2 linked regions of the Homo sapiens genome follow. The protein of the gene in region 2 binds, or shares a complex with, the protein of the main gene of each other region. Each region holds a gene or a part of one and is shown on either strand. Other genes may lie near its edges.

Region 1 (7,027 bases), on a different chromosome or scaffold from region 2:
AAACTCCTGACCTCAAGTGATGCGCCTGCCTCAGCCTCCGAAAGTGCTGGGATTATAAGGGTGAGTCACCGTGCCCAGCCTGTTTTGTATTTTTTTGTAGAGACCGTGTCTCCCAGGCTGGTCTCAAACTCCTGGGCTCAAGCGATCTGCCCTTCTTGGCCTCCTAAAGTGCTGGGATTACAAGTGTAAGCCACCACACCTAGCCTATAGCCTTCATTTTTTTTTTATTGAGATGGCATCTCGCTCTCACCCAAGCTAGAGTGCAGTGGTGCAATCTCGGCTCACTACAACCTCTGTCTCTTGGGTTCAAACGATTATCCTACCTTAGCCTCTGGAGTAGCTGGGACTACAGGCGTGTACCACCACGCCCAGCTAATTTTTTCTATTTTTAGTAGAAACAGGGTTTCACCATGTTGGCCAGGCTGGTCTTGAACTCCTGACCTCAAGTGATCAGCCCCGTCTCTGCCTCTGAAAGTGGTGGGATTATAGGCGTGAACCACTGTGCCCAGCCCATAGCCTTCATTTTAAAATACTTTTTATAGGGTATAGTGGGAAAGGCACAGTGGTACAAATAAATTATAATTAAACTTATTTATTCATGAGACAAGGTCTTACTCTGTCACCCAGGCTGGAGTACAGTGGCACGATCATGGCTCACTGCAGCCTCCACCTTCTAGGCTCAAGCGATCCTCCTACCTCACGTTCCGAGTGGCTGGGACCATAGGCACTCACCAGCATGCCCAGCTAATTTTTAAAAGTTTTTTTTGGCCAGTTGCAGTGGCTCATGCCTGTAATCCCACCACTTTGGGAGGCCAAGGCGGGCAGATCACCTGAGGTCGGGAGTTCGAGACCGGCCTGACCAACATGGAGAAACCCCATCTCTACTAAAAATACAAAATTAGCCAGGCGTGGTGGCACATGCCTGTAGTCCCAGCTACTTGAGAGGTGGAGGTTGCGGTGAGCCGAGATAGCGCCATTGCACTCCAGCCTGGGCAGCAAGAGTGAAAGTCCGTCTCAAAAAAAAAAGGTTTTTTGTAGAGATGAGGTCTCACTGTGTTGCCCAGGCTGGTCTTGAACTCACTCCTGGCCTCAAGCTGTCTTCCTGCTTTGGCCTCCCAAAGTGCTGGGATTATAGGCATGAGCCGTCACACCTGGCCTTAAATTTATTTTGATTCAGGGTTGCTGGCCATCAGAAGTCTATTTTGGTTGCTTGGTTGGTTGTGTTGTGTTATGTTTTGTTTTGTTTTGTTTTCCTTTTGCAAGAGTAACTTTTAATTTTATTCTTTGCGTAGACTAATGTTAAAAAAGCCCTTTACATCATTCTTTTGCCATCTTTTATTTGGTAATGTAAATGAATGGAACAAATAATTTTTTTTTTAGTATAGAAGTCTAGAAGCTTAAAAATGTCATCTTAGCCAGGCCTGCACCTGTAGTCCCAGCTACTTGCAGGATGCCTTGAGCCCAAGAGTTTGAGTCCAGCCTAGGCAACACAGCGAGACCCTGTCTCTTTAAAAAGAAAAAAAAACCCACCTCTGTTTTTGCCTCTAATATCAGTATTCACAGACATCATTTTGGAACAGTTAATAAAATGTGAAAATAAATTAGTGTAAAGTATTGACTACTTTAAAATCAGTATAGGCCAGGCACAGTGGCTCTCACCTGTAATCCCAGCACTTTGGGAGGCTGAGGCAGGCGGATCATTTGAGGTCAGGAGTTTGAGACCAGCCTAACCAGCATGATGAAACCCAGTCTGTAAGAAAAATACAAAAAAACTAGCCAGGCATGGTGGTGTGCACCTGTAGTCCCAGCTACTTAGGAGGTTGAGGCAGGAGAATTGCTTGAACCCGGGAGGTGGAGGTTGCAGTGAGCTGAGATTGTGCCACTGCACTCCAGCCTGGATGACAGAGTGAGACTCCATCTCAAAAAAAATAAATAAAAATAAAAAACAAAATCAATATATAAACAGTTTAGACTTTGGTAATTATATAATTGCTTTTTTTTTTTTTTTTTAGAACAGTAAATGTCCTGAGGGAACAAAACCCATGCTGATATTTGCTGGCGATGATTTCGATGTAACAGAAGATTATAGAAGACTAAAAAGTCTTCTTATTGGTAAGTATTTTAGTATTTATTATCTTCAGGGTAGCTCAGGAAGACAGTCTCAGACTCTCACTGGTGGCACTTTGCTACTTTAGGTTTGTAACTTCTTTTTTCTCTTATTTTAAAAATAATATTTATATACTTAAAATAATGGAGTGCTTCACAAATTTGCATGCCATCCTTGCGCAGGGACCATGCTAATCTTCTCTGTATGGTTCCAGTTTTAGTATATGCGCTGCCGAAGCGAGCACAACTTCTTTTTCCTCCTTTTTTTGGACCTTTCTCTTTTTTTTTTCCCTTACCAGCAGCAGGAAAGCACCTAAGTATCTCGGGAGAGTTAAAGCAGCTGTTGTACTGTGTAGATGATTATTTCTGGATGTGTTAGTAACTTAGGTATTACTTGTATAGTGTTTTATAAAATTCCTGCACCCATCTCCTGTCATTCCTAGCATCATTTAAAATTAAATTTAGAAAGTTGAGGGATTAAAATTTCAAGATTGTTTGTATCACCGACTTCCAACTCAAAAACCTTAATTAGTTTTTCTGAGTTGAATATACAAGGCCTTTCACAATATATAACCAATGTAGCTTGGCCTTCTTGATCTCCTATTGCCTTCTTTTTTTCCATTAGAAAGGGTTTATTGCCAATATATTATTCACATTTCTATTGTGTATTCTGATATTGCTCTTATTTATCCAGTTTCTACTATTCATTTAAGTGTCAGATCATCAAGTTTCTTTTCCGGGAAGCCCTCAGTGACCTTCCTGGCTCCTTTTTTTTTTTTTTTTTTAAAGATAGAGTCTTGCTCTGTTGCCCAGGCTGGAGCACAATGGTGTGATCTCGGCCCACTGCAACCTCCACCTCCCGGGTTCAAGCGATTCTCCTGCCTAAGCCTCCCGAGTAGCTGGGATTACAGGTGCCCGTCACCATGCTGACTAATTTCTTTTGAGACGGAGTCTCGCTCTGTCGCCCAAGCTAGAGTGCAGTGGCGCGATCTCGGCTCACTGCAAGCTCCACCTCCCGGGTTCACACCGTTCTCCTTCCTCAGCCTCCCGAGTAGCTGGGACTACAGGCACCTGCCACCATGCCCAGCTTATTTTTGTATTTTTAGTAGAGATGGAGTTTCACTGTGTTAGCCAGGATGGTCTCAATCTCCTGACCTCGTGATCCACCCGCCTCGCCCTCCCAAAGTGCTGGGATTGCAGGTGTGAGCCACTGCGCCAGGCCTAATTTTTTTTTTATTTTTAGTAGAGACAGGGTTTTGCTATGTTGGCCAGGCTGGTCTTGAACTCCTGACTTCAGGCGATCCACCCTCCTTGGCCTCCCAAAATGCTGGGATTACAGGCATGAGCCACTGCGACAGGCCCTGGCTCATTTTTACTTTATTACCATCATCATCCTAAGTGCCAGGCATATAGTAGGCACTTCATATACACTGCTTCATTCTAACAAGAACCTTGTGAGGTTGTTCTACAGATAACCCACACCTAGCAAACTATGCTAGTTCTAAATGATTTGTGTAATGAATATAAGGACTACATCCTTTTCTATTTTTTTCTCCTTTATGAGGCAAGTCGTGTTCTGATGCCCAGGCTGGAGTGCAGTAGCTCAATCATGGCTCATTGCAGCCTCAACCTCCCAGGCTCAAGTGATCCTCCCACCTCAGCCTCCTAAGTAGCTGGGACCATAGGCACATGCCACTATGCCTGGCTAATTTTTAAAATTTTTTGTAAGATGGGGTCTCACTGTGTTGCCCAGGCTGGTCTTGAACTTCAGGGCTTAAGCAATCCTCCCACTTCAGCCCTCAGAGTGCTGGGATTACAGGTGTGAGCCCCCACACCCAGCCTCCATGATTTTTAAAAGGTTATTAGTACTTAGCATTCTGCAATTATATTTGCCAGCTCTTTTATAACTCTGGAAAGTAATTTAATTTTCCAAGAGATTGGTACTAATTTAAAGGGTCTTGGGTCTGTCTCTCTGTCCCTCAATTTTTTTTTTTTTCTTTTTTTTTTTTCTTTTTAGACAGCATCTTGCTCTGTCACCCAGGCTGGAGTGTACTGGTGTGATCACGTCTTACTGCAGCCTTGACCTCTTGGGCTCAAGCAGTCCTCTACCTCCTGAGCAGCTGGGACTACAGGTTCACACCACCATGCCCAGCTAATTTTTATTTTAATTTTTTGTAGAGATATGGGTCTCCCTGTATTGCCCAGGCTGGTCTCAAACTCCTGAGCTCAAGCAATCCACCTGCCTCAGCTTTCCAAAGTGGTGAGATTACAGGCATGAGCCACCACACCTAGCTCTCTCCAATTTAAGAAAATCTTCTTACTGAATTTTTTGCTTCTTTTCCCTCATGGGGATTGAGAGATTCAGCTTTTCCTGCACAGTACACTGATACTCTCAAAGCAGCAGTCCTTTATGGTCCTATTTCACCTTAGTGTTGACAGCCGCGAGGCCTCCATCTGATGCTCAGTGGCCTTGTCTACTTTATTCCATTTGAGCTTTTCTTGCACCATGCTTACAAGCTTATGCTACACTTCTTGTTACCCTTGTTTTAAATTTTTATATACTTTGCTGTAGATCACTTTTGAAAAATTGATGGGGTATAAAATTACGTTGTATGCACATGCTTTACAAATCTGAGCCCACCAAAAAAACTGTGACAAATACATTGCTTTCATTTTCCCTTTTTGGGATTATTTATGGTCTTTATTGTCAGGATTATAATTTTTAGGGGAAAAAAAAACACGTCACCCATTCTTGGGATTATAATTTTTAGAATTTATTTCCCGTATTAGTAATAGCTACTTTTTAAAAAAGAAACTAAGAACCACTATTATCTGTTTAATCTTTACAAAAGTTCTTGAGTTTGATGACATTCCCATTTCACAGATGGGAAAACAAACAGGGGCTCTGAGAAGTTAAATGAGAGCTATTAAGTAGGTAAGGCCAAGTTGAAACCCAACGCTTCCAAAGCCTGAGCTTTTCTTCCCCTACTGTCCATCTTGCCTGTGGTAAACATATTCCCATGATCCCTTCTAGAATCTTTATAGGTTCTTATCCATATTTTCCATGAATTAAATTCATACATGAAAGACAATGACTAATATTTCCTTCTCTCAATATTATATATCCCAAATTATCAAGGGTATTTTTCTTTCTTTCTTTCTTTCTTTCTTTCTTTCTTTTTTTTTTTGAGACATAGTCTCACTCTGTTGCCCTGGCATGATCTCAGCTCACTGCAACCTCCACCTCCCAGGGTCAAGCAATTCTCTTCCTTAGCCTCCTTAGTACCTGGGACCACAGGTGCATGCCACCACACCCGGCTAATTTTTTATATTTTTAGTAAAGACTGGGTTTCACCATGTTAGCCAGGCTGGTCTTGAACTCCTGACCTCAAGTGATCTGCCTGCCCTGGCCTCCCAAAAGTGCTGAGATTATAGGTGTGATCCACCGTGCCTGGTCAAGGGTATTTTTCCAGCCAAAATGTCAGCCAGATTTTCAGCTAAGATTTCCATTACTTGTACTCCATTGACCTAGATTTTCTGCCTTTTTCTCTTTCCCCTAGGTCTCCCATATAATTGTTTATTGTCAGTGAGGCAGATACTTACAATTTGTTATAACAGAGAGAGCTTTTGTTTGCATTTGTTTAAATGTTTTTTGTATTTTAATAAGCCCCACCTTCTCATTATTTTGTGCTTCCACTAGATGGCAGGAATGATCACATAATGCAGTGGTGAGGGGAAGGGAGTGAAAACCAAAAAGGAATCTGGACAGAAGCAGAAAGGTAGAAGAGGAACAGATTCAGACTGTAGGGCACCAAGGGAAGTTGAGTTTTCAGTATAAATATGAAGTAAAACAACTGCTCTTTGGTTTATGTTGTGTGTTCAAATGAAATATCAGTAGGGAGCAAGAAATGTATGAAGGGCTTTCATTTAGGAAGTTCCTTTTTTTTTTTTTTCTTAATTGACCAGAAAGAAAAGTTAACTTTTTTTCATGCAAGATACCCATTTTGTTCATTCTTAATTTGTTTACATCATTTTTTTTTTTTTTTCTTTTTTTGAGACAGGGTCTCACTCTGTTGCCCAGGCTGGAGTGCAGTGGCATGATCATGGCTCACTGCTGTAGCCTTAACTTTCTGGTCTCAAGCAATCCTCCTACCTCATTCCCCTCAGTAGCTGGGACCACAGGTACACGTCACCACGCCCAGCTAATTTTTTTTATTTCTTGTAGACATGAGGTCTTGCTGCATTGCTTGGGCTGGTCTCAGAGTCCTAGGCTCAAGCAGCCCTCCAGCCTCAGCCTCCCAAAGTTGGAGGTGTGAGCCAACATGCGTGGCCTATTCTTCCCTTCTTAAATGGTAGCATATTATATATATGGTTGTTTAAAAAAATTTGGAGTAGAGGAATTTTTAATTCTGATTTTCATTATACAATTGAGAAAACTGAGGCCTGGACAGGTGAGTAGCTTTTCTAAGGTCATGCATTTACCAAGTGGCATATTAAAGTTTTGAACTTAGGTCTCTCCAAAGTACATGCTTTTATTTCTTATTTGTTTATTTTTTGAAATGGAGTCTCACTCTGTCACCCAGGCTGGAGTGCAATGGAGCAATCTTGGCTCACTGCAACCTCCGCATCAGCTGTTCAAGCGATTCTTCTGCCCCAGCCTCCTGAGTAGCTGGGATTACAGGCATTCACCACCATGCCTGGATAATTTTTGTATTTTTTGTAGAGACAGAGTTTCGCCATGTTCGCTAAGCTGGTCTCAAGCTCCTGGCCTCAGGTGATCCACTCATCTTGGCCTCCCAAAGTGCTGGGATTACAGGCATGAGCCACCGTGCCCAGCCATGCTTTTATTTATACAGTATTATTATACTTTAGGTTATCAAGTTCATAAAGTTATTTATCATACTTCTTGGTCAAAATCCTA
Region 2 (7,027 bases):
CTAAGACCTTGTCTCTACAAAAATTAAAAAAATTAGCCAGGCATGGTGGCATGCACCTGTAGCCCTAGCTACTCAGAGGCTGCGGCAAGAGGATTGCTTGAGTCCAGGAATTTGAGGCTGCAGTGAGCTATGAACGTGCCACTGCACTCCAGCCTAGGCAACAGAGTGAGACTCTGTCTCTAAGGGGGAAAAAAAAAGACAATTGAAAACTGAAGTTTGGAAATATTCAAATAGTAAAATATACATTATTTTTAGCTCATGTACTGTTTTGGAATATCAGTATGGTTATTTCACTTTCCATAGACAATTTGATAATTAAGGTTATATAAATTTATATTACCCATTTTAAGAAATGTTGGTTGATAATGTTAAGTTTAAGTTGGCGTTATATATTTTCAGAGAAAAAAAAAGCTTCCTTCTTTCTTTAGTCTTAGAGAAATGCTTTATTATAGTCTTTACAGAAAGGCAGGAAGCAAGTCTGTCTGCTCCATAGCAAGTTCTACAGGTCACATAAGGGCTCGTTAGTAGTGTGTGTTAGCGCAGCCATTCCAAGAAAGACATCTAAGCTAAGCATCTAAAAGCAGGTTTGGTGTTTCTAAGTGCCTGGTGTCTGAAATGAACTCTTGTTTAAATCTTAGTATGCCCAGCTACTTCTTGACACAGTAGATAAGTTTCAGGGTGAATTCTGTTCAGAATTCCTGAATATTTGTCTGTTCTCTCCAGCTAACTAAGTGACGCTTGGGGAATAGCCATGCAGATAGATGGAAACCCAGTTAACGGGGGCATGCTCCACTGTACCAAGAGGAATTATAATGCTCGTTTGTACTTCTGGCACTTCATGACTTTTCTTTTACCTACCCCATTCCCCGTGTGCTCTATTCCAAGCGCAAAAATCTTCTAGTAGGCTTTCACTAAGGAAATTCCCCAAAAACATTTTCCCAACCATTGAGAGTTGGTCATTTACTTTTTTTTTTTTTTTTAAGCCCACTGACAAGGAACTGAGAGAGACTATAGCATTGCTGACAGCCCAACAGACTGCTCTGGAAATTATTGTCAACATGTGCTGCAATGAAGGTTTGTTAACATTTACATTTAGACATTTTCCCCCTGAGCCAAGAGGGAAACTCCCGTGGAGATTTTCTTAACTATTCCAGTTCTGCGTGGTTTGCCCGCTTCCCAGATCCCTCTGATGACGAATGGGAAGAGCTTTCTAGCAGTGATGAAAGTGACGCATTTATGGAGAATTCCTTCAGTGAGTGCGGGGGACAGCTGTTTTCTCCCCTCTGCCTCTCCCATGAAGTTCACACGGCTCTCACCAACTACCTCATCCCAAAGAAGGTAATCCATTTTCATTCTAGGCTTACCGTGGAGCATGGGAAAGGCTTAAGCAAGGTATTCATTTTGTGTACAAAAGAAGCAAGCTCACACTTCCAGGTTGTAGATGGTGGTAAGATCTGAGACAAAGCTGAGCCTAACAGTACTGGAAATAGGCGAAAAGGTCATTCTATATGAAGCCTAACCATTTCACTTAGGAGTAATATGTTGGAATTATGTAAGGGAATCGTGTTAAATGACTACTCTTTAACCTTTGCTTTACTGCCTCTTTTAAATCTAGATTTTTGAGAAAACTGCCTTTCCAAACAGCATTGCAGTTGACCTATGTTCTAGGAACCCTACTTGGAAACCTTTGATTAGAAAGTAAGAACTCTTCTGCTTTCAAAAACATTTGTCATTATTTTATTTTATGAAATGATGGGCTATTAAATAGAAGGTGCTGACTCCCCCTAGGACCCAGAAGTTTTGTTCCTGGGTATATATACCAGAAAAATATGTGCCCACATGCCCTAGAATACATGTATATGAGAGTGTTCATAGCAGTGTGTGTCACAGTTGCCCCAACCCATAAACAAACGTGTTGTCCATCAGAGTTAGAATGGTAAATAAATTTTGACAAAATCACGCAGTACAATACATGCAGCAGTAAAAGGGATCTGAATTAGAGCTACTCACAACTCGGATGGAACTTACATTGTTGAACCAAAAAAGCGAGACATAAAAGAATACACACACTGTGATTCAGTTTTTACAAAGTTGAGAAACAGGCAACATTGAACTATTTTGTTCAGGGATGCATACCTTGGTGATAAACCTATTAAAAAAAAAAAGAGGCAAGGAAATGTTTACCATAGAAGTCTGTATGGTGCTTACCTGTAGGTGTCAGGGAGGTGGGATATTATATGGAAGAGATACAGGGGCTTTCAGGGTCCAGCAGTGTTAATTTCTTTCCCAGGTGCATGGGTTTTGGTTTCATAGACTGTTTGTTAAACTCTCTATGTATGTTGTGTACTTAACTGTATATATGTCACATTTCACAATTAAAAATAATTTTAGGCTGGGCATGGTGGCTCACACCTATAATCCCAGGACTCTGGGAGGCCAAGGTAGGAGGATCACTTGAGGCCAGGAGTTTGAAACCAGCCTGGGCAGCATAGCAAGACCCCATCTCTACAAAGGAAAAAAAAATACAAAAATTAGCCTGGCATAGTGGCACTCAGCTGTAGTCCTAGCTACTTAGGAGGCTGAAGTGGGAGGATTGCTTGAGCTCAGCAGTCTAAGGCTGTAGTGAGCTATGATGGTGACACTGTACTCCAGCCTGGGAAACAGAATGAGACCCTGTCTGAAGAAAATTATAATTTTAAGGATGCTACCCTACATAGAAATTTTTCTAAAACATATTCCTCATGACTCATGAATGAGTTGTGTATCAGAGGCCGTGAATATTCAAGCAGTTTGATTTGGCAGATTAACAGTTCACCTTATAATTCTAGCACTTTGGAAGGTACAGGCAGGAGGATTGTTTGAGGCCAAGAGTTCCAGAGCAGCCTGGGCAACATAGCAAGACCCCTATCTACAAAAAATAAAAAACTTAGCCAGGTGTGGTTGCATGCACATGTAATCCTGCTCCTTAGGAGGCTGAGGCAGGAGGATCACTTGTGCTCAGGAGGTTGAGGCTACAGCGAGCTGTGATCACACCACTGCACTCCAGCCTGGGCAACAGAGTAAGACCCTGTCTAAAAAATGATGATAAATTTTAGAAAACACAAAAAACAGTTCACCTTGTGATTCTTTGCTAACTGCCATAGATACCTTGTATTTACAGATATTTCCAGTCAGAACGTGAAGCTTAGGCTAAAAGTTAATACTGAATTCTGATGGGCAACTTCTGGAGAATCAGATGGCATTGTTTCACTTCCTTTCCAGAATGAACACTATTCAGTGCAGAGCCCTCTTCTGTCTCCAGAGTCTTGTGTCCCTCCTGGATGTGGAGCACCTGGGAGGAGCCGCAGCCCTTCAGACGCTTGCACAGCATCTGTCACAGCTGCTTTTTTCTCAACCAGGTATTTAGACTTTATTGCGAAAGACTACGCAGACGGAACAGAATTTTGAAGGGGCAGGAATTTGGATTTTGTAAATGTATATTGTTTGTCATCCAATGTGCAGAAACCTTTCCCAGACACAGGAATCATGTATTTATAGTTGCCATGGGGTACAGAGTCAAAACGAGGTATGCAAGCAGCTCCTGGGCTTATAATTTTCTTTTTTGTTAAAATTGTTTGCATCCAGTTATATCAGGCCAGTCAAGGCTGTATCATAAATATCATAAAGGCCTCATTAAGGTATTTGGATAATTCTCAGCCAAGCACGGTGGCTCATGCCTGTAGTCCCAGCACTTTGGGAGGCCGAGGCGGGAGGATCACCTCAGGTCAGGAGTTGGAGACCAGCCTGGCCAACATGATGAAACCGCTCTACTAAAATACAAAACTTTAACTGGGCGTGGTGGTGGAGATGCCTGTAATCCCAGCTACTCGGGAGGCTGAGGCAGGAGAATCGCTTGAACCCAGGAGGTGGGGATTGCAGTGATCTGAGGTTGTGCCATTGCACTCCAGCCTGGGCAACAAGAGCAAAACTCCATCTCAAAATAATAATAATAATAATTGAGTACTATTCTATTATTTTCTTCCCAGTTACAAGCATTTAAGTTTGATTAATATATGTATGTAGTACAGAATTCAAAAGTTATTAGAGGACAGAAACTGGAAAGCCTCCCTCCTTTCTCCGACACCCAGTTCCTCTCCCAGAGTCAAGTTACTGTTGCACCAGTTACTTGTGTATCCTTCCAGAGAGATTCTCCATGTATAAGAGAGCGTGTGTATGCGGGCATGCGTGCGTGTGTGTAAGGCAAATGGTAGAATACCATCCACACAATTCTACACCTTGCCATCATCTAACATGTATCTTTCTTCAAACACCTTTGCATGGTAGGAGCTGATTCTCTTAAGTTACAGGTCTCTGATACGGATTAATTTCATATGCACACAAAGATCTATAGCGATACAAGAGTTAAATTAAATATTCTTTTAAATGACCTAGCTGTAGGTTTCACTTGGAGGGAAAAACAAAAAAAACAAAAACTAGCTGTACAAAGTCCAATGCATGTTCTTCTAACAGATTTTCATAGTTCCTCATAGTAAAATCTTACTTAATTTGACCACATTAAACTATAGGAGCTCAAACCAAACAAAAACAAGAGAGACTGAGAGAGAAGAACAAGTGGTGTTTTCTATACTGAAGGAAAACTCTCCACATTACTCCACCCAGTATCCATTGCTGGAGCGAGGGTAGCCTGGGAGGTGGGAATCTGCCCCTCTCTCTCAGCTGCTGAGGTTCCAGGTGTCTTTCAGGATTTTTTGAGGGTAAACGTGAAGATATTTGCTTTCTACACTGGCAAATAAGATAATTCCATTGTGTTATATTCAGTGTATTCTTCATATATTTTATCCTCCTTTTCAGACACAACATTAAGTCCAAGAATTGAACTCTTAAAAGATCAGGCCAGGCGCGGTGGCTCACACCTGTAATCCCAGCACTTTGGGAGGCCGAGGCGGGTGGATCACCTGAGGTTGGGAGTTCGAGACCAGCCTGGCCAACATAGCGAAACCCTGTCTCTACTAAAAATACAAAAATTAGCCAGGCGTGGTGGCAGGCACCTGTAATCCCAGCTACTCGGGAGGCTGAGGCAGGAGAATCGCTTGAACCCGGGAGGCGGAGGTTGTGGTGAGCCAAGATCGCGCCATTGCACTCCAGCCTGGGCAACAAGAGTGAAACTCCGTTTCAAAAAAAATCAAAAGAGAGTCACTTTTAACTAAATACAAGTTTTTGTGTCAACATCCATTCAAGTGTTGGTCCCCAGTTCTTTAGACATCTGTTTTACATTCCGTCAAGTTCCTAAGAGGTGCTGTGTGTTTAATGGTACATGTTTTTTAAGTTCTAAATTAATCTTTAAAAATTAAGTAATTAAATATTCAGAAACCCATATGTGGTTACTGAGCTGTCTCTGCCACCCTTTCAACATTGATCAGTTAACAGGTGTACCTTTCAAGTACTCCCTGGCTGTGCATTCATTGGCTGGAATGATCCCATGAAAGCTGTGCCCAGCCATGCCCAGGACAGGATATAGTCAGGATATGGGCAGTGCTAGTCCCATTCCCATTCCAGGGCAGGACGGGACAAGCACTGGAGTACAGAGGCAGCTCGTCAGTGTGAGCAGACCAGATGATGGCTGTAGCTTTGTATTTGTCTCCTAGCCTCCTAAACCTGGAAGAGATCTGGATGGTAAACGGGGAGGGGACTTTCCCCAACTTTTGCAAGCATTCTGGCTCCCATCAGCCCAGCAAGATGTCCTGTGGGGTGGGAGTGAGAGGGCTGCTGTTGCTCATGCCCACCCCCACCCATTCCCCTGAGTAGAGGCAGGGGGCAGAGCCAGGCAGGGAGTCCACAGCCAGGGTCCCAGGTGAGCAGGACCCCAAGTCTCTCACTGCTTCCAAGCCCTACCTAAGCTCTAGGTAACCCTGGCAGCCCTGGTTCCACAAGCTGCCATCTCTCAGCTCTGGGCCATTTCTCACTGAGAGTCTGGTCCAGGTACCCCCGGTCCCATCCCCAGGCAGCACACAGAGGTTATTTCACTTGAAACAAACTCCCTGTGTGCCTGTGCTATAGTGAAAGCACTCAGATATGTTTCTCTTGGTTCTGCTGGTTATTTGTGGTCACTGAGGCCAGCACATTTATTAACTGCAAAGATCACAGGAAAACTGCCCCAAGCTGAGTCCTGGAGAAATAATGGAAAGTTTCTGAATTGTGGGAAAATATAACTAAGCACTTTGATTTTAAATAAATTCCCATTTCATGTCTATTCTTGACATCATCTTTTTTTTTTTAAGGTTCAGGAATGTGACATGCTGCTAGGTTAAGAATGCTTTTGTGTATCCTGAGGGTCTTGATGATATTTATGTAGAAATCGCCTACCACACGTTACTGTCACAACAGTAATTTTGAAAATGTATTCACCTAATGACATGTGCTCAGTTACTTCCAGGGATTGGTAGTCTGAATTGGCCTTGCCTATGTAATGGGTTTGGATGGTTACTGCTGGGGGAAGAGGGCCATTACAATACCTCTGGGCTGTCCAGCTTGCTTGGGGCCCATACTCGTATCCCATCTGTGGCCTTCGTATCACCTAATATTGGCATTCGGAGAAATGGAGAATCAAAATGACTTGAAAAGTAGTGTCATTGTTATTTATTTTGGAGTAACAGAATGTTTTCTTATCAGAATGAATTTGATAAAGGATAATCGCTTATATTTGGAGATGATATTCTTTTTTTTTCTTTTATTTGAGATGGAGTCTTACTCTGTTGCCCAGGCTGGAGTACAGTAGCACGATCTTGGCTCACTGCAATTTCTGCCCCCCAAGTTCAAGCAATTCTCCTGTCTCAGCCTCCCAAGTAGCTGGGATTACAGGTGCCTGCCAATGCGCCCAGCTAATTTTTGTATTTTTATAGAGACGGGTTTCACCATGTTGGTCAGGCTGGTCTTGAACTCCTGACCTTGTGATCCACCCGCCTCGACCTCCCAAAGTGCTGGGATTACAGGCATGAGCCACCGTGCCCGTCCTAGAGATGATATTCTA

Evidence for each region. Proteins that work in one complex are often made in the same cells at the same time.
Region 1: HEATR3 (region 2) and RPF2 share a complex: the UniProt entries of both Homo sapiens proteins name them as parts of the hexameric 5S RNP precursor complex.

The regions. Positions count from the first base shown.
Region 1 is NC_000006.12:111,006,026-111,013,052, forward strand, and holds part of RPF2 (ribosome production factor 2 homolog), read left to right. Parts: intron 1-2,012; coding exon 2,013-2,112; intron 2,113-4,195; exon of another isoform or gene 4,196-4,238; intron 4,239-5,806; exon of another isoform or gene 5,807-7,027. UniProt on the Homo sapiens protein: Involved in ribosomal large subunit assembly. May regulate the localization of the 5S RNP/5S ribonucleoprotein particle to the nucleolus.
Region 2 is NC_000016.10:50,082,954-50,089,980, forward strand, and holds part of HEATR3 (HEAT repeat-containing protein 3), read left to right. Parts: intron 1-983; coding exon 984-1,074; intron 1,075-1,154; exon of another isoform or gene 1,155-1,180; coding exon 1,181-1,338; intron 1,339-1,615; coding exon 1,616-1,698; intron 1,699-3,261; coding exon 3,262-3,398; intron 3,399-7,027. UniProt on the Homo sapiens protein: Plays a role in ribosome biogenesis and in nuclear import of the 60S ribosomal protein L5/large ribosomal subunit protein uL18 (RPL5). Required for proper erythrocyte maturation.